Regions from separate parts of the Homo sapiens genome. Here region 1 is linked to region 2. A link means that fine-mapping ties the variant in region 2 to the expression of a gene that starts in the linked region. Tissue or cell type: whole blood. Region 2 holds a variant in brackets; the other region holds the start of a gene. Each region is shown on its reference strand, or each on the opposite one.

Region 1 (10,293 bases), not on the chromosome of region 2:
GTACCAGGGTCGACATGGCCTTAGCCAGGTCGTAGCCGTTCCTTTGCAAGGTATCCATGGCGTGAAACTATGGGGAAGATGGAGAGCAACTGAGGACCTGAAACTTTTGGCACCACTCCCTTCCTGCTCCTTAAAACACTCCCACTCCCGGCCGGGCGCGGTGGCTCACACCCATAATCCCAGCACTTTGGGAAGCGGAGGCGGGCAGATCACGAGGTCAGGAGATCGAGATCATCCTGGCTAAAACGGTGAAACCCCGTCTCTACTAAAAATACAAAAAATTAGCCAGGCGTGGTGGCGGGTGCCTGTAGTCCCAGCTATTCGGGAGGCTGAGGCAGGAGAGTGGTGTGAACCCGGGAGGCGGAGCTTGCAGTGAGCTGAGATTGCGCCACTGCACTCCAGCCTGGGCGACAGAGCAAGACTCCTCTCAAAACAAAACAAAACAAACAAAAAAAAAACACTCCCACTCCCTCAGAGATACCCTCCTCTTCTGTTCCCAGGCTCTGCAAGTCCCCAGAAAACCCAGCCTGCCCAACTACCCACCAACTTCTGCTCACCAGAGTGATATCTCGGGAGGCAGCAGCTGCACTCATGTGCAAGCTTGGCTGCCGAATGGAGCTGCTACAATCTAGGGCTCTTGCAAAGGTTCCCACAGCTCTAAGGGAGAAATTGAGAAGTCAAAAGCGAAAGAAAAGTCAAAAGCCCAAGTGGGCTGGGAAATTAAGCCAAAGGAGAAAGAAGGAAAACATCCATGGCAATGAAAGAAATAAAGTCCATCTCTAAGAACCATGGGACTCAGAACAATGTCCACACCTCCCCCAGCCCATCTTCCCTATCCACCCACCCCTCACCGGGCCACCACAAGAAACTGGTCGATCTGCCGGTCTGTGAGAGGGTTGTCTGGGTCCCAGACCTTCATCTCCATCTTCTGCTGGTTCCGATTATCAGATTCTCCTGGGGAAAAGAACAATGGCATCAACAGGGAGAGGGCAGGGGGGAACAGTTGGTGTCTTTTCATTCACAATAGCACCTCCTCCTTCTCTTCTTCTGCTTGGATTCTATCAACTCTCCGACTTCTCTTCCCAACTGTTCCCATTTTCCCTTTTCAGGTTCCTACAGGCCCATTCTGTCAGGGTCATGGCAGAGAGCCCTGCAGACAGTGCACTGCACAACCCCAGGTGACGCCATTCACAGAGACTATAATGTTAAAGTGCCCCTTGGAATTAGACAACCTGGTAGCCGTACAGTCTTGTCCTGTTGCTTACCCTCTACTAGGCGATCTGGGATCTCAGCTTGGTATTTGCAACCAACTCTAATCTCGCCCTGATCAGCGAGAAGTGTCTTCTGCACGGGGTCAAACACCAGTGAGTAAAAAAAGCAGTCCTGGAATTGGGGAGAGACAAGGTAAGCAAGGCAGCAATCCACATAGGCGGCGGGGAGGGAGGTGTATCTGAGTTTCCATGACCGGCAGTCTGGCAACCCTGTACCTCATCATTGTGCTCCTTTCCCCCTCTCTTTTGCGGGCAATACCCATTCCCCTCGCTCTTCTCTCAACATCTCTTTCTCACCTCCTTTTCCAGGTACTGGCTCAAGATATCTGTCTCATTCAAGAGGGTCACACTGCATTTCCCCCTATAGGAGAGAGATTGGAAAACCCCGGTGAGCCCCACTCTCCCTCCCCACAGCATCTCTCAATACCACCTCCTTCTCTCCATCTTCTACGTAAGTGCACGCAGGCTATGCTGGCCCCAGTTGTCCTGTACCGTATGTGGGTGGCTGGTAATGATTCAAATTGCCGAGAAAGAAAAAGTTCCCGGTGCTTCAGTTGATGGCGCTGCTGCTCAGACACCCCTGGCTGCTTTGATTCCTCTTCAAACTCCCCTGGGAGATTAAAGAGGAAGAAACCAAGTCAGAAATGGATCCAGCAAAACACCACCCTGGAAACTCTAACTCAGGGAAAATATTTCCTATCTTGGCTGTTTTTTTCTCACATTTCCCAGGCGTCTGCCTTCTATACCCTTATCCCACCAGCTTTCCTTCTTAGCTCTATGCCCCATCATAGATGCTCCCAACTCTATCAGTAATGCTTTTAGAGAAGAACTGCTGAGAGTACGAAGAATGCTCTAGAAATACATCGCTACCCAGCTGCCAGTACTCAGACACCAAAGTCCACAACGGGCCAGCAAGAACATCACACTTGTCTCTTGCTTGCTAAACCAGCCTGAGGTCCAGGAACTCAAGATGAAAAAATATCACACAAGACTGTGTTTACCAGTTCTTTTCAATTTCAGGAGACTCTTTGCTCTAAAACATCACATGCAGCCCTAACTATCCCTCATTTTCTACTTGGCTAATAATAGTTCCTGGGGTTTCCAAGGACAACACCTCTCAAGCCAGTGCCAACACCTTCCTCCCCAAGGAGCTGCAGCTTGCCCTGAAACCTAGCGGAAGGGGTTAACCTGGCTAGGCGCCAACCAAAGTGGGAGGGAGCAGAAGAACCTCAGCCCCAGGCTCATTGGTGTATTGTTCCCAACCTCAGGGAGAAGGGGGGGGTTGTGCAGTAGGCTCCACCCCTCGCTTGTGTGCTCCGGAAACCCTGTGCTGAGGCAAGGGGGACCACACCCCCAACACCCCTTCTGATTGGACAAGGCCAAGGTCAGCCCCTGCCAGATGGGGCTGGAAACCCTAAAGGGCCAAGGAACTTGGTAAGCTGGGCTCCTCTTTAACCCCTTCTCACCCAGAGCAGTCTGAAAAAGGAAAATAATTTAGAAAGGTGGAACAAAAGGAAGGAAAAAGAAAACCAAAGCAGGAAAGGAAAAAGAAGCTAAGGAAAATATGTTTTTTAAAAAAAGAAGATGAGACCTTAAAGAGAATGAAGATAGGGCAAAATGAAAAGGGAAAGATGTAAAATGGAGGGGGGCGGGCGGGGAAATGGGCGAGGTGAGAAATTAAAAAGCGCAAGAAAACTTCCAGCCATCTTCTAACTTCCAGGTACTCTCATCACCTTGTGATTACAAAATAAGCCTGCTTCTCTGTTACGCAGGCTTCTCAGTACAATGTCTTCCTCTTCACGTTGACCTTCAGTCATCACCTACTGTCTCAATGTACCCCAAACTGCCCCCCTTTAGAAAACCATTGTTTCTCTAAAGCTCGTCCTCATACTCTAAATGTTATCATCTCTCTCTTACTCTCATATACAAACCATATTATCGCTTTCCTTATCACAATCTCTCCACCCTGCTTCCAACCCCAACATGTAAAAACAGGCCTCCCTCCTCAGGCCAGGCATTTCCCACCCCCAAACTCACACCTCTGCCTTGGGCATGCTACCAGGGGAAATACCTGCAGGGACATGCCCAGGCCTCAGATCATGGGTAGGAGAAAAAGAAAGGGAGGAAGATACTCACTGGCATTACTATCAGCCAGGCTGTTGAGGCTACTAGAAATGTCCCTGCGCCGGAAAAGACAGACAACCTTTGCCTCCACATTTCCATTTGCAGTCTAAGGGGAGGAAAAAAACAAAAACAAAACAACGTAGCAGTGGAAATTGATCATCTGGGAACAGAAATGCACAAAGAGACAAATAACAGTAAGTTTCAGAGGGACCTAAATTAAAAAGCCCAAGAAAATATGAGTAAAGACTTACATTCAAGGATAGACTTCCAAATCCCTTTCCTTTGCCCCCAAGAGACAGAATAGTAAAGTTCCTGCTAACCTCTCAATAGCCTTTCCTGAATACATCCAATGAATGAATGAACGAATATGAATGGGTACTTAGTATAGGATCCTCTCTTCCACCAGAAGTTAGAAACCTCAGAAGAGACCACTGCGGGAGGGAGGGAGAGGGATTCTGCTCCACTCACCTTGTTGAGCTCCTCAATCCGTCTAACCAGGTAAGGATTGCTGGAAGAGTTCTCAAAATAGACGTAATCTGTAAGGGAAGGGAGGGGGGAGAACCACGAAGATCAGAGGAGATGGGAGACGCAGAGCACCAGGGTAGGAGAGAAAGTTGGCCTGAGTGGATCAAAAGGAGATAAGGATTCAGGTAGAAAGGGCGCTGAGATGTGAAAGTGGACAGACTAAGAGAAAATAAGGATGTCCCCCATCCCCACCGCACCTAGTTCTAAAATTAGATCCTTTACTCAAAAGAGAGCCTTAAGGAACAGGCAAGAAGCAGGGGTTCCCCTGCAGTCCCCACAACTCAGCGATGAGTTGCACCCCAGTCGCGGCGAAGTAATTGTCCGCTCTAGCGCAGGGCCCCTACCTTTTCGAATCGAGGCGCACAATAACGCCTGGGAAGAGGAAACCTCCGGGCGGCTCCCCCGCGGTGGCAAAGCCGTCGCCCCAGCCCCTCGCGTTCCCTCCCTACCCTGTCAGCTCCTTCGGAACCGGTTCCGAAGGCCACTCCGTGCCCCGGGGAGCCCCTGACGCAGCCCCGAAAGTGCCGTCGGGGCTGCCCGCAGCTTCTCTCTGGGAGTCTCGGAGCCCTGCCGCGTCGCGGTTCCCCGCACCCTCTCTCCTCGTCTCCCGGTTCCGGTTCCGGTCCGCGCTCCGGTCCACGCTGCCCCATACGCTGCGCCTCGCGCCACCCGGTGCCGAGCCCCTCAGGTCCCTACCCCAACCTCTCCCGCCCCGGGCCCCGTATCCCTGCGCCCGGTACTCACCTCCCACCCGGTACATGTTGGCCGCCATGGCCGTTCCCGCCGCCGCCTCCGGCCGCACAAAGGGGTCCGGGAGGCTCGCGGGGGCAGGGCTCGGCTCGAGGCAAAGCCCCGAACGGTGGGCTGCCGCTTCGAGGGAGTCTCACTGGGGCCCGCGCAGCCGGCACCTCCGCTGCCTCAGCCGTCGCGGTTCATCCCGGCCCGCGCTGTCGCCGCCGCAGCTATCGCCTCACTCCCGGGACGCTGAGGCTGGCCCCCGTCCGCTCGGCTTCTTCCGGAACGAGCTCGGCTCCTGCCAGGCCAGAGCCAGGCTCCAGCTACCCCCGCCCCCGCGGAGTCCCACTAGTCGTTGGGCTCTGCCGGCCGCAGGGAAGGCTTGCCGGGCCCGCCTCAGGGTTCGCCTCCTTCCGGAACACCTTCGGCCGATCCGGAGAACAAGGCCCACTGCTCGGCTCAGGTCGGAGAGCGAGACCCCGCAGATCGGCTACTTCCGGAAGAAGTTCGGCTCCTGTCGGGCAACCGCTCGGCTATTTCCGTCGCAGCTCGGCCCCACCCCCTTTTCCGAGGGCGGGAGAGGAGTCGGGCTTAACTCTGTCCTCGCTGGAGCCCTGCAGCTCCTCCTCGCGCCCCAAAGACTCGCGCGCCTTAGCGCTTCGCCAGGTTATTTGCAAGCGGCTTTGCCTGTCATTTGCATAAATGGTCTACGCTCCCTTACCCTTTCCGCACGCCTCTTTTCCTTCGTCCCCACCCCACAGAGCCCCGGAGGCGCCCGGCAGCGCCCCACAAAAGCACCGGGAGGCGACTTTGGTTCTGGTTTATTGCCCCTCAGCAGGCAGCGGGAGTCAAGGCCTAGGCTGGGGCTGCCCGGCTCAGCCAGCGGGTCTAAACAGTGTGTGCAGGGGCGCCGTTCGCGCCCTCCAGGAAAATGCGCGATCGGGAATGTCTCGAAGTCAGTCCAGGAAAGAGTCGGCCCCTAGTCGTGGGGGATTGGGCCAGGGAAGGGCAGGGCGGGGCGGGGCCACGCCGCCGGGCCAGTCGGTCCCGCCAGGCAGCGATCAAACGTCGAGGGAGGAGGCGGGGGACAGGGAGGGGGTTCGAGAGGGCGTGGCGGGCGCCGGCCCCGCGCCCCCAGCGCCCAGCACTCGCCACTGGAAGATGCTGGCGTCCTTGCCGCCCAGCGAGACGAGGTGCGAGTCGTCGTGCGTGAATCGGACGCTGGTCACGTGGCTGCCGTGGCCCCCGTACATGCGGCTCGGCGCCTGGGCCGGAGGGAAGAGTTGCGGTGGCGGCTGAGCCCTCGGGCCCACCGGTCCCACCCCGGCGATCCCCGCGGCCTCACCTTGGCACGAGCGCACGGGTACTGGAAGAGATGCACTTTGCAGAAGTCGTCGGCCACCGCCACCACGCGCTCGTTGTGGGAGCGGCACAGGGAGTTGATGTCGGTCCCATCGGAGCCGTCCGGCCAGACGCCTAGCACAGCGGCCGGCCTCAGCCCGACCTCCTACCCACCGCCACCCACGGCCCAGAGCTACACCATTTCAGGCGCTCCGGCAGCCGCGGCCACCCACTGCCGCGTTCCAGGCAAGCCTTCCCGGTCCCGAGGGGCCTCCTGGGCTGGATCTTCAGGTTTCTGGACTCTCACCCAACGACACACGCCCAGCGTTCCAAGCCCAAACTGGGCTCCACCTTGTCCCCCACCCTTCCAGCAGGTTTCCACGCCCCTGCTCACCGTAGACGTGAAAGCCCAGCACACAGGTGTAGGTAGCCCATTCCCGGTCTCGGCTCTCATAGCGATTCTTCAGCTGCTTGCAGCCTCCAGCCACGTCCCCTGGGGAGAGGGAGCCCGCCCAGCTCAGCTCTCACCCTGCCCTCAGTAGGGAAGATGCCAGGGAAAGCCAGACTGGAAAGACTGGCATGAAACCCGGCGATGGCATGTGATCTGGTCACCGTAGTAGCATCACCTCCTCCCCCTGTGAAACCCACCCTGTGTGCGTCCTGTCCTGAGCTCTGGCTGAAGTTCTAACAGCTTCCACGAGTTCCTCCTCCCTAGATAAGTCAAGTGCTCCACACTTGCCCTGAGAAACTTTTCCCAAACAATCTTTTCTTAGCGCATTTTTGAACTCCCTCAAGTCAACAAGACATGGTGTGAAACTAGTTGTTTCCAAATCACGAAATTTCTCCTACATATAATTCCAACTCCACTTTAACCCCATCTCCACTTCCTTATCTAACAACACCTCTAACAGCCCCCCCTACACAAAACCCACTCCAATTACCCTCTCCCCATGTCCTGCTCCACTGCCACTCACAGTAAAGAATCTCATAGTCCCCAGAATTGGACATGATGAAATTCCCATCCTTGGACCAGTCAAGATGAGTGATGAAGCTGGAGTGACCCTGGGAGCAAAGGTCAAGAGTTTTAAAGTATCCCATCCATTTCCCATCCCCAGAGCCCCCTTGATGCATCAGACCCCTGAGTTTCGCAGCTGTTATCATGCCCCACCACACACCCCAACTTCCTCACCATACAGCGGCCAAAGCGGCTGGATTTGGCACCATCACTGGAAACACTATAGATGTAGATCACGTTGTCATGGGAACCAATGGCCAGGTACAACCCATCTGCAAATACAGTCACTCAGAGAGGGAAGGGCCAGGGACGCATGTGAGTCCAGGGTTGGGGTGGCTCCCACCTGGGCTGTACCGGACCACTGAGAGCTGCTCATTGCCATCAATGACATCAGACACGATCTCTCTGGTCTCTGTGTCCAAAACCAACCACCTGGAAGGGAGGGAAGTGGAGGCAGATAGGAAGACGAAAAGGCAGGATGTAAGGAGACCCCCAGGGAGGCCACCCTGGGTAGGCTTGGGGATGGCAAATAAGAGAAGCTCAGAGACACACACAGAAAGGCTCTGATGTAGAAGACAGGTCACAACTGCATTCTTCTTTTTTAGTTTGTTGTTGTTGTTGTTGTTGTTTTGAGACAGAGTCTCACTCTGTCACCCAGGCTGGAGTGCAGTGGCAAGATCTCAACGCAACCTCCACCTCCTGGGTTCAAGTGATTCTCATGCCTCAGCCTCCTGAGTAGCTAGAATTACAGGTGCGTACCACCATGCCCGTCTAATTTTTGTATTTTTAGTGGAGACGAGGTTTCACCATGTTGGCCAGGCTGGTCTTGAACTCCTGACCTCAAGTGATCCACCCGCCTCAGCTCCCAAAGCGCTAGGATTACAGGCGTGAGCCACCGCACCTGGCCACCACTGCATTCTTATGCTGAGAAATGGGAAGGAGCTAAGTGTGGATAAAGGCTGAGGGGCTTCTGATGTCGTCTGAAAAAGTAATCTGAAACTACAGACCAGGGGCCGACTACAAAGGCACTGTGCAAGCTGGAAGCCTGTCACTTCCCTGTGTTTGTCTATGCCCCTCCCATTCCCACTGTTTCTCTATCCTGGGCTGCTGCCTCCTCCACTCCCAGGCTTGGAGGAGACACTGGGTTGGGGGAGGGGGAGAAACAGTTACCACAGAAGAGGAGGGGAGCCCGGGTGGCAGGGGCTGCAGGGAGAGGCACAGAGGAGTGCCAAGGCGCAGGTGGCTCCTGGGTAGAGGTGGTCACTCTCGCCCACTCCCCCAGTACCAGGAACCCTTCCCAGTCCTCCCTGCTTTCCCTCCTGGGAGTCCTGGCTCTCTCTCACCTCCCCGTGTTCAGTCCTACGGCCACAACTGCCCCACTCGGGTGGAAGTCAGCACAGAGACCAGTCTCCTGGGAGAGGGGAGAAGGTGAATTCAAGATGATGTCTTTCTAGTGAGGGAACCAGAGTGAACCCCTTGTCCTCCTAACTTCAAAGCCACTTACTCCCAAGGAGAAGATGGGAAGAGAGGGAAGGGATACCCGGGTATCACTGGAGCCTGAACAGGGAGTGATACCAAAATATTTAACCACAGAACTGATGCCAATAGCTGTGCTGGAGATTAACCATTTAGGTGCTGGATCAAGAGGAAGTCTGAGGGGTTCTGGGGGCGGCAGGGAGTGCCCAGGTGGTACTAGAAGCATCAGCTTTTACCAGTCAGTACAGAAAAATTAATATTTGAGTAGCCAGTGCAGCCATACCAGTACAAACTGGCCACCTCTGGGAGGCAGAAGGCAAGGTGCTGGGGAAGGCGTGGTGGCCACAGGTGTCCTGGTGGGTGTGGCATGGGGGATCCAGGGGCACAGGGCTCTACCTTGAGGTCGATGCTCCAGGCCAGTGCATGGCTCTCCCCATCCCACAGGCAGAGCTGCCGGTCGTGGCCGCAGGTGAGGAAGCGGTTCTGGGAGGGGTGTGTGCAGAGCCCCCAGAGCTCATCAGTGTGGCCCTGCAGCACAGCATGACTGTCACTCCTGCCCCTCTCTCACACCCCTTTGTCCCTTCCTCCCCTGAGCCCTTAACCCCCAACCTGGATTACAGGGGAGAAGCCCTGGGCCAGGTCTCCCCTCAGCAATGCATTCTTCGTGGTTCCCACCAGCAGCTCAGAGCCAAGCCCTTCAGCAATGGCTCGCACGGCCCCGAAGTGCTCGGGAATCTGCAGAGTGGTAGCAGAATGTCAAGAGCCCACTGACTATTGCTCTTCTCCCTCACTCCCTTGACCCCAGCCCAGCCCTCACCTCAGCCTCCTGGAGGGCCACCAACCCGGGCCCCCACTGTACCAGCCGGCGGTCCCGCCCGCCACCACTCAGCACTGTCCCGTCCCTCCGGAGACACAAGGCGAAGATAGAACCTTCATGAGCGTGAGCCTGGGCCACAATCCCATAGGTCTCTGTTGGCAAAGCCCCAGGTAGATCATGTTTTGGGGGTGCAGGGGAGTGAGAAACAGGGCCAGCTTGGCTGTCGCAATACAGTAAGAACTCCCAGCCATTGCATGCACTGACTACTATGTCTCATCCTCATACTGCCAACACATCTGTTATTCTCCCCATTTTACAAACAGGACAACTGAGACTCACAGAAATGAGGTAACTTCCTAAAGGCAAGGCAACTAATAGCAAAACTGGAATCTGAACCTGAGATCTGGCAAACACAAAGCTCCAGCCGTTTCTCCTTTGCTGTGCTGCCCACACGCTTCTAGACTAGCCCCCAAGAGAACTATCAACTCTCAAGGTAAAAAGGTGGGAAACCTGGCTGGGCGCCGTGGCTCACGCCTGTAATCCCAGCACTTTGGGAGGCCAAGGCGGGCGGATCACCTGAGGTCAGGAATTCGAGACCAGCCTGGCCAACATGGCAAAACCCCATCTCTACTAAAAATACAAAAATTAGCTGGGCGTGGTGGCGTGTGCCTGTACTTCCAGCTACTTGGGAGACTGAGGAAGGAGGATCACTTGAACCTGGAAGGCAGAGGTTGCAGTGAACCAAGATCGCGCCACTGCAATCCAGCCTGGGCAACAGAGTAAGACCTCATCTCAAAAAAAAAAAAAAAAAAGATGGGAATGGGAAACCCTCTCCTCTGTTCCCACAGAACCTCTGGAGTACTACACTTCCCAGATGCCCCTCCCAGCCACATACCTTTGGCGCCACCCCTGCCTGGGGTCTTGGAATCTGAAGGGCTCCGCCCCCAGGTGAGAATGTTCCCCTCTGAGTCTCCAGTGAGAATGTCTCC
Region 2 (10,293 bases):
TTTGTCGACGAGGTGTGGATTCTTCCACGTGGAACAGCACCTGGGGACAGCACCTCAGAGTGAGACAAGACAGAGGGAGGACTCACTCAAACTTGATGTCACCCCCAAATTCAAGAAACAAACACAGGGCAGAGTTTGAATGATTCAGTCTGAGAATCAAAACAGCCTCTGAATGAACACATACTTCAAAAGGCACAAGGCAAAAAAAAAAAAAAAAGTCATTTAGGAGTGACCCTGTGTCATTGCTAAGTTGACAGACTTACAAATAAACATGGGCAAGGTGATCACCTTGTCTCCTTTTACAAGACAGACCTCACTCGGTAAAAATATACACTGACGTATTATGTGCACATCAACCTCAATAATAAAACATACACGCGCCATCACAGTCCTACACATAATTTATGGTATTCAGAACATCACTTTATAAACTGTTGCCAAATTACCACTTAAACACTAATATCCAAATACAGAATTTAGAAAATTATTTTAAATTTTAACTCTACCATCCCCCCGAGCTCTCGGCTATGAATTTAGTCTGGGAAGAGGGCTCCGTAATAGGCCACTGAGGTCCTCTGTCCCACCACATCATCCTCCCCCGAAAACTAGCTGCCCGACTGCTCTACCAGACTTGGGCTAGAATTTGGCTTCACGGTGGCAATGGGACCACCTGGGCCCTACAGTGTGGCAAAATCAACTTGCCCACAAACCCCATCCCAGGTGCTGGGATGCTAACACACTGAAGCTGAAAGACCACACTTGGTTTTGCCACAGATCAAGCTGCATCTGACTAGACAGCCTGTTCTCTACCCTATTTCCTGCAGAAGTCTTTTTCTTTGTAATGCAACAAGTGCTACACAGCTCAGATCCAACGGGACACGGGGAAAGAGGCTGTAGTGCACCTAGCCCTGCTGAGGGAGACCCTTGCCTTGCCAAAGCACTTTGCTCACAAAGGCAGTTTCAAAGAGTATAGCCCGAACTCATTCCTGGTAAAACAAAAGGAAAACATTTTTGATAAATGTACCCAAAAGTCTCAAAAGGGCTACGCTGGTCTTCTGAACGGAAACCAAATGAGGTCTCCCCAGGCTCATGTCATGAGTCTCAGGGAAGGTGTGTCCTAGACCGTGGCCTTGGGCCTGCCCAGGCCGAGGCTGCCGTCACTGCAGATCCTGCAGGTTGATAGTGCTTCCTGGGAACTGGGTGGCCTCCGGTCCAGCAGGGCCTCCAGATGAGGGGAGCACCTCCTGCAAAACCAAGCATTGTCATGAAGAGGGAGGAGGGAGGGGAGGCAGAGGGATCCTGTGGCTCCACACAGCAGGACACTGACCAGGCCCGTGGTGAGATACCTGACTTCTCTTACTCAAAACTACAGGCTCCCCTTATTCTAAACACATGTTCTTTGATGAAAAATGAACTCAATACTGTACTGTAAATTTTTCAAGATTGTTCTGTCTGCACATTGACGTATACCCTCACATGTTCATATACCCATATGCCTTTTTACAGAAACAAAATCATCTTTACTTCTGCAACCCTTTCTCCGCACTTCTCACGCGGTGAGCACTCTCCCAGGTATTAGGTGTCCGTCCGCCTGTGCCCTCACAGCTGACCAGGATGTGGCCCAGGGCTATGGAGGCCCCATCTAGCCTGTCTCCTCCTGCTACAAGAAGTGTTCCTGCTGTTGCACCATTTGACTCCGGGCTACGGTGATTATGTCACTACCTTATTTTTTCAGGAGCAGTCCCAGGAGGGGGCTGCCAGGCAGGATGGAGCAGACACTTCTGAAGTTCTCTGATCCATGCTGCCAAACCGCCCTCCAGCTCACCCCTCTGCAGCCTGGGTGCCCGGCCCTCTGCTCCCACCAGTGCTTCTGTCCAAGTTTGGTTTTGATTGCGAGGGAAATGCTGAATAGCCCAATTTGAATGCAAAAAAACTAAAACACAATTTGCATGGCTTATTGTAAATATATAAACACGTAAGGCAAACTGTTAGAAATGTGATAAGCTATACGCTTTCGCTATTTCATATCAAACTCTGAATCATTCACTGCCACCCATCCTTAGCTTAACCACGTAAGCAAACTACTGAATTCATCCGAGTCTATTCTCCCACAGGCTGGGCCCTGGCCAGCCCTCTTCCCAGAGAATTAACTGGAATTCCTAGGCACAACACTTTCAAGAGCATATTAACTTCTCCTGCTTTGTCTACCAGCAGGAGCTGCAGCGTCCTGCAGATCTGAGCTCCACTCACCCACCTTCTCCAGAAGGCAGCAAGACATCCTGGCAACCAACCCACTGAGCCTCCCAAGCCACGCGGCCTCAGTGACCAGCCTGCAGCTGTGAAGCCAGGCTTCTGGAAGTCGAAGGCTCTGCGAGTCTCAATAAGAAAAACAAAGGGCAGTAAGGCATCCAGACCTGGAGGACGTAGACGGGCAGGTCCACAGTGAGGAAGGGGAGGAAGGTGGCTGGGCCGCGGGCCGAGGGCAGGACACCTTCGCCGGAGGGGTCATCCTGGGAAGGCAACACAGAAAGGCCTGTCACATGTCTGTGAGAGTGCAGCAAAGGTCCTCGTCTCACCTGAGAAGTCTCCTCCAGCTGCAATGCGTGGCAGAACCAGCCCACCCCCTGTATTCCAAGGGAGGCCCGAGGACCCAGCAGGAATTGTTTATGGGGGCTGGGTACTACCTGTTCCCACCTGGTTCTCATTCTGTCACCTTGATCCCAGCAGCTTTTGCTGGGCCTGGAACCTTCTGCTCTCCAGCTCCTCCCCTCAGTCAGCCCAAATACTGATTTCCCTCCTAAGGCACGCTCCTCAACTCCTTGCAGGTGCCCTGGCACGCCCTGTACCCCCACCAACCTTGTGTACCCAGAGTGCTCTCCAGCAAATCCTCGGGCCCCACAGAGGGCCTTCCCTGCATGCCCCAGCTTGCCTACGGGCCAGCTGGAAGGACCAGGGCAGGTAGAGGGGCTCCTGAGAGGGGAGGCTGCCAGGCCCCTCACAGTCCAGGCTAGAAACTTCATCTGTCCCACACTTCGCCTGTCCTGCACCTGCATGTCCGCCCATGGCCATTCACACCCCGAAGCGGAGCTCCTGGTGCTGCTGCTCTGCACCTCTCATTCCTTCTGTTTGAGAAGCTCCTGTGTGTCAAGGTCTGCACTACTGTTCCCATTTCATAGATGACAAAACTGAGGCCCGGAGTGCTTAAGTAACCAAGACTACGCTAGCTGGTAAGGGACAGAAAAAGAACTCAAACCCAGGTTTAATCAGGCATCTCTTAAAAGTATACCCCCTACTTGCTCCTGTTCTGCCGGTGGCACCAGCTTCCCTACCGTCTCCCTATTGCCAAGCCTCTGGTCCTGACTCTGTACCTCTGCCCTGCCAGCTGAGGCAGTGTTTCCTTGGATGGTCCTCCCCCTCCCCCTGCCCCTGCTCCTGGGGAGTTCTTACCTCTTCAGAAGCTGGAAACAAAGGACCAGTGCTCCTGCCCCTCTCTAAGACAAGCTTCAGCCCCCATCTGACGCTCACCGCTAGCTTCCAACCAGCACAGGGCCACCCCCAGCTGCCCGCAGCCTCTTCCCTGCCCCCTTCCCAGCCCACCTCTGCCCAGGCTGCCCCTCCTCTTGCCTCTCTGAGCCCCAGGCCTGGTCCTGTTTCCTTGGCGAGACTCTCCCAGGACTCTGAACCCACAAACGTGCCTGTTTCCCAACTCAGAGCCAGCGTCACCTCCACCCTCCGCACTTCCGTGGGGCCTGCAACCGCATCCCCTGCCACAGGGAATCTACAAAGTGGAGTGGTGAAGAGGGGCACACACCTGGGCCAAACCCAGACAGCCCCGGCTTGTATATCTCTTCTCTCCCCAAATCCTTCCAAATCATCTTCCCTCCCCATTCCAGCCCCTCAAACTGAGACTGAAGATGCAGGTGTGCTCAGGGCTGCTGAAGCAGGTGTGCTCAAAGACCTCCTGGAAACTGGCCACAGCTGCAGGTATCTGTGGCCCGGACAGGCTGGGAGGGGCCTGGGCCTGCCCTGGAGGGGCTCTGTTTCGTAGGAAAGAAAATAGAAAAACACTGAAAAGACCCCCACCACCTTCAGCATAGAAAGGCTGCTAGTGCGCCACAAGCAGGCCGCCCTAGAAATGGGGTGGCTGAGACGGCCTGCGGAGCCCTTTTGCCCCAGCCCTGCAGAAGAAGGGCAGGGTGGCCTCAAACAGATCTCATCCTGCTGCAAAACAGCCCTGGGGGCCTCGGGCAGGGAGGCGGGCTACTCTGGGGCTAGACGCAGGGCTGTGCACAGACAGGTTCAGGAAGTGGATGCACGGTCCCAGCAACACTCAGAGCTTGAGCAGATGCAGGACAGGCTGGGAAAAAGGGAGGAGCTGGGCTGTGAGGAGACAGGACTTGGGGCAGTCTACAGGGGAGGATGCACGAGGGGCAGGCAGGCAGGGGGTGCTGCGATGGGCAGGGGATGCAGCATGCCGCACACTGCTCAGACCTGCGTGACCCTCCCACCCCGCCTACAGCTGGCCTGTGTGACTGGCCAG[C/T]TCTCACCTGCACCAGCTGGACCTGGACGCCCTGCGCCCCGCACTGCACCCCAGCTGCTGGAGCTGGTCCTGGCCGTCCTCCGCTGGGCACCACGAGGCTCCCACACAACCAACTGTTCTGGCTTGCATGGAAATGGGGAGGACTCATTTTGCCTTCTTTTATTTTTCTCTGAGTAGACTGTGAGGCTCCTAAAATGAAATATAAAAACGAGCACACCCAATCTACAATCTACCAGTCAGGTCTGCCCTTACCAAGGTCTCACTATGGGGAAGACAGCCTTCCCATTAATTGTCATTCTGCACAGCTAAGAGACGTAAAATCACTTAACAGAAAAAATCAAGAGTTAAGAGGTTGAAACAAACAACCATACGAACAAAAAAACATCAGGATTTTGATTTTAAAAATGTAAAAACATCATACGTATTTTTTTGCCAGACGGTACGGTAATCAGACACAAGCTGCAAATTCTTGGAGAGCAGAATCCTCTAACTCCAGCAGCTGCTGGCTGGCAGGAATCCCAAGCGCAACTGAGGACAGCCAACAGCCCAGAGCCACAGCATCATGGAATAGGAAGGAAGCGGGCGGTCTCCATACCCCACCTGTGGGTGGACTGCTGCCTCTGTCCAGCTCCTTTCCAAGTCACTACTCCATGGGTTTTACAAATATGTGCTTCTTAAGAAATGAAGTAAAGCACAAAGAAAAAAGAAAAAATCTTAACACCCATAACAAACCCAAGAGCTGCTTCAAAAGGGCCCAAAGGTAGCCTAGAGCGTGCACTGCAGAGACCCCGGCTAGGCTCACCCTGACCCGCCACCCACTCTGCTCCAGGGATCTGGAAAAGGAACTCAAGCTCTGGGCCTCAGCATTATCTACCTGTAAAATGGGAATGCTAGTCCCAACCTCGGAAGGTTTTGGAGAGGATTTCATAGGAAATATGTGATCAAAACTTAGAACAGTGACTGGCGAGTGCCAAGGAGTTTAGGCACTGTCACTGCTCTGCCCACACATCCCTGCCTGGATGTGTGGGATCCAGCTATGAACGGCTTCAAAAAAACAACTGTACAATGACTATCATATAAGTTATTCCTAATAAAAGTATTCAATTGGGTGACCCTGCTGCCCAAGGCAGGCTGTTTTTACGAGGCTGTTTGACAGGAAGGTTCTGAGCAGCCCATGGGGTGAGAGCTGACTTGCCCTGCATATGCTGTCTCCCTGACCTGCTCACCTCACTCCAGATCCCTTCCTGTCTTCCGCAGTGCCCTGGGTCCCGGAGAGCTTCACACTCAGCAGGCAAGCCAACTGGGTGCACAAACCTTGGGTCCTCTGTACTTAGGCACAGCCTGCTGTCTTTTCTGGGTGCCTCAGGGCTCTTTTTCTTTGAAGTGCAAATGCTAACCAGGAGGTTTCTGGGTAACACAGATTCAGTTCCCCCTCACTGCAGGGAGATGCACTTCCATTACAAAATACTTCCTTTCTGTTCATCCATCAGTGTTCCAGAAAACCCAGCAACCCTCGCTCTGGATCATCTCTGACTGTTCTCCACGCCTGGTTTCTCTTTTTCTAATTGCTCTACTTGCTTCAGACAGAAGAGCAGGGCTGGGTCTGGGGCAAGAGAGGTGCCTGGGGCACAAAACTTACTCACCCCTCCTTGAGGAAACTTCACATCAGTTCCTAGTACTGCAGTCTATTAAGTCTGCAATAACATTATGTCTAAAACAATGCATACCTTAATTTAAAAATACTTTATTGCTAACAAATACCGACATAGACATGAAGTGAGAACATGCTGTTGGAAAAATGGTGCCAACAGACTTGCTGGATACAGGTTTGCCACAAACCTTCAATTTGTAAAAAGCAAAAAAAAAGTCAACTGCAAAAAATGAAGCGTGCCTATATCCTCCGTGAGCTTGTATACTATCCCACTTACCTCCAGAATTTTACCTGAATGCATTTCTATGCTTTCAAGTCTTTTATCACCCTAGCATATAAAAATATGTACATAAACTTAACTTTTATTTAACTTCTAGGCATTAACATTTTTGGTTTGAACTGTTACAACTGCAATTATTAGTAATGCAAAACAAATCAAAACAAAATATATCAGAAACTTTGATAGATAATTATGATATTAAAAGCAAAATTATATTAAAAATGCTTTTCAAGAGGAGTGGGACTGACTGGTGGTTTTCTTCCCCAGTTAGTTCATGTATTTGTGTCTAAATATTACTTCTTGCTAGAATTAGACATGGTCAGCATCTATTCTTGTCAATTAAAAACTTTTTTAAAATAAGATGCTCATGTGTCATCACAACTTTGCAGCTGCAGGTTGAGTTTATTCAAGTGAGGGGGAACTGCCTGCCCACGAAGCCCCAGCAGCAGGGCCGGTGCTGCAGCCAGAACAGTCGCATTACGCTTGCTTTCTAATAAAAGGCCTGGCTTCATTTTTAAATTCAAATAAAAATACTGAAACATGTTATTATATTAGAAATATTGGCCGGGCGCAGTGGCTCACGCCTGTAATCCCAGCGCTTTGGGAGGCCAAGGCGGGCAGATTACAAGGTCAGGAGATCGAGACCATCCTGGCTAACACGGTGAAACCTCGTCTCTACTAAAAATACAAAAAATTAGCCAGTGGTGGTGGCGGGTGCCTGTAGTCCCAGCTACTCGGGAGGCTGAGGCAGGAGAATGGCATGAACCCAGGAGGCAGAGCTTGCAGTGAGCCGAGATCATGCCACTGCACTCCAGCCTGGGTGACAGAGCGAGACTCCCTCTCAAAAAAAAAAAATAATAATAATATGAAAACCACTGTAGAATAAATTAAGGCAGGCAGTGAATAGTGTATCTCTCCAGATTTCTTTTAAAAGCAGGCAAGATTTTAAATGATGTATATCAAGTATTTATTATCAAGTTTTATAACATAAACAAGATAAAACTGAGCCATTCATCATGATTCAATGCCAAATGTGTACGCCACGCTCTAAGTTACCTACAAAGCAAGAAATATGACTGAATCCTAATATTCCTTTGCAAAATGTGTGCTAGAATGTATGTGCCATTCGAATCATGGGAAAATCAGAATTGGGTGCAAAATCAGAAATAATTCCACTAATGTTGCTAGACATGGTTACACTTTCCTTTTATACCTAAACCAGTAACTAAAATGATTCTATCTTTATTAACAATTTACTTGTATTACTTTTACAACAGGAAAAAAGATAGGCTGTAACGAGAATATCTCATGACAAGCTAAATTGGTTTCAACTTCTGTATCAGCATACAATATGAAAAAAAATCACAGGAATTTCTTTTCAATCCGCACATTTAATTCAGTGTCTCAGGTAGTCCTGTAGACACCAGTTACACTGAGAAGAAACACCACCACTAATTTGCATCAGAAGGTATTTTTCTTCCCAGCTAACAACTCGTCTAGGGATAAAAAGTCAATAGCTGAAAAGAATTGCTCACGCTTATACATACATAGGGCTCATTCCTGAAAAGTAATACATTCTTTGACAACAGCAGAGGGCTGGCAAAGGTGAGGACTTTCTACGAGAGATGTCCATCCATGCCCCACATCCCCTCTCTGATGTACCTCAAGCAGAACATCTCAGCGTCCACCCCTAGACACATCTCTGCACAGGAAGGGTAAGCTGGCAAGCCCGGCTCATTAAAGTTTTAATGTCGGTATTATTCTACAGGATGCTTCCCTGAAACCAGTATTTGGAACTGCCCCTGGGTTTGGTGCTCTGGAAGGATATCCTGTTTTTGTGTGCACTCCAAGGCAACACACTGCAGTAGAAGTCTGGTGGAGAGTTGCAGCCTCCCCGTTTTTTGGCAAGCAGAAGGACAGCTGTGGGTGAGGGGGAGAACCTGCCACAGATGAGCTCGGACACCCCTTCTCAGAGAGTCCGTTCCAGCAAGGACTGCACCTGGAAGATGAACCTGGAAAGGATGCAGGGGTCCAGGCCAACAGCTGTGAGAGAACAGGGCAGCCAGGGGAGGAGGGGCCAAGCCCCAGTTGCTGAGTTGTCCCCCAGGCCTGAGCAGGGTGTTCTGTCCTAGAATCCCTGACGGTACACCCTGAAGTCTGGTGGTATGTCGTGAACATTTAAGATGGCTGAAAGTTAATCATAAACTTCCTGGGTTAACTAAGCAAGTATGTTTATCTAGGGATGCTTAAGGACATGCCAAAGCAAACAAATGGGGTCCACACCACGTCCTCACGATAACCATGAAGCCCTGGGTCCTCACTAGTAAAGGGCGCCATGGCATCAAATGCAATATGATCAATTTAATTAATAAAGCAGTCACAAGAAAAATCAAATTCCTCTCTCACAATGGACAACCACAAACCCTTATAGAACAAGGTAACAACACCGAACTACATTTTGCTTCAATATTTTCAATCATTATCCAAAATGCTTGCTTGTGCTGGAGAATCTGCAGGAGTGGGGAGAGGAGCAGTATAAATCCAACACCAAGCAACCTCCTGGGAAGCAAGGAAGGACTCCTTAAGGAAGAGTCCTATCTAGGTATGATGGTAAATAGCAAAGTGGTCAAGGGCCCCGGCTTGGGAGCTGGACGATCCAGCTATGTGACTCAGCTCCCATCATCTGCGGTGAATGGAGATGGCCACACTGCTTTCACCTCACCGTGCCATGACGAGAATTAGGTGAGGTCAACAGCACTGGGCCTGGCTCAAACAGCATGCCATCCCCACACCAGTAGCACCGCAGTGCCTGCCACAGGACAGAGTTCAGAGCCAGCCAGGTGCCCCGAGAAAGGATCTGCACAGATGAGGCTCAGGCCCCTCCCTTGATAACCACAGGGGGTCATGCGAGCTTCCTCTACTGAGATCCTCACTTGAACAGGAGGTAAGTGACTATTTTCCCAATTCTCCCAAGGGTGGAAGATCAGAGGTCACTGGGGCTTAACTCACTAGGTCCCTGACATGGTTAGTTCAACACAGCTCTTATAAAGATATAATATGTTAATATACTTATCCACAAGGAAAAATATTCATATTAAGAACAAAAAGCAGATAAAAATGTTTATCATTTTTCAAAAACAAGTCATTTGTGTAGGTTTCAGATTTCACATTTGTGTAGGTTTCATTCAGTTTAACACTGAAACACTGTAAGTAGTTTTTCTTGGGTGGTGAAGCTACAGGGGAGAAAGCATAAGGAACCCACAATGATCTCTTCCAGAGTAAACCCACATGACCAGCCCTGCCTGTGCTGAGTGCTCACCCTTTGCTTAGGGATGTGCTGCTCACACGACAGGTCCTTTGTTCTGCAGGGGCACTCTCTCCTCCAGGGCATCTGGCAGGCCCTGAGTACCCGACTGCCTCCTCCCATCTCACAGCCTTCATGGGTATTCTCACCAAGCTACCTTCCCAGATGAACTTAAAGTAGACAGGTGTTTAAGTTACTCTGGGATTTTACAGGAACTGAATAAAGTATGTAAGTGAACAAGAATTGGGCATCTCTAGCTGGCAGACCCTACACAGGACCTTACCCATTCAGAGCACACTTGTCATGAGTGAGCCTGGCATATTTTATTACTTTTACTGTCATTATGAATAAGGTCAGTTTTTCACAATTATTCTTATTGGAAAATCTATTAATTTTATATATACAAATATGTACTGTGCAATTAGCTATCTATTGATCCTTCTTATTTCTAATTGCTTGAGTTGATTCCCCTGGGTTTTCTAAGCCTGACAATGACTTTGTCATTAAGTAATCATCAT

The links.
Region 1: it holds the start of MTA2, and the variant in region 2 is fine-mapped to the expression of MTA2 in whole blood (TOPMed, PIP above 0.99).

What each region holds. Positions count from the first base shown.
Region 1 is chr11:62,596,759-62,607,051 of GRCh38, forward strand. MTA2 (metastasis associated 1 family member 2) reads right to left here and starts at 5,107. Exons shown (of 18, transcript NM_004739.4): 1 at 4,665-5,107; 2 at 3,864-3,931; 3 at 3,408-3,501; 4 at 1,764-1,881; 5 at 1,569-1,632; 6 at 1,266-1,383; 7 at 852-954; 8 at 558-657; 9 at 1-67. The coding sequence starts at 4,692. It overlaps EML3 (EMAP like 3), which reads right to left. Exons shown (of 22, transcript NM_153265.3): 12 at 10,200-10,293; 13 at 9,305-9,456; 14 at 9,097-9,222; 15 at 8,884-9,015; 16 at 8,355-8,422; 17 at 7,355-7,443; 18 at 7,186-7,283; 19 at 6,971-7,058; 20 at 6,391-6,489; 21 at 6,001-6,131; 22 at 5,460-5,920. The coding sequence ends at 5,717. RefSeq lists enhancers at 2,245-2,384, 3,978-4,688, 4,123-4,172, 5,553-5,602, 6,111-6,820 and silencers at 4,423-4,502, 4,583-4,682, 4,753-4,802.
Region 2 is chr3:126,437,218-126,447,510 of GRCh38, forward strand. ZXDC (ZXD family zinc finger C) reads right to left here. Exons shown (of 10, transcript NM_025112.5): 8 at 4,548-4,729; 9 at 2,415-2,510; 10 at 384-1,244. The coding sequence ends at 1,158. Among named protein-coding and RNA genes, the nearest start is that of ZXDC, 34 kb to the right of the region's middle. RefSeq lists an enhancer at 4,026-4,661. The variant C/T (reference allele first, on the strand shown) is at 4,541.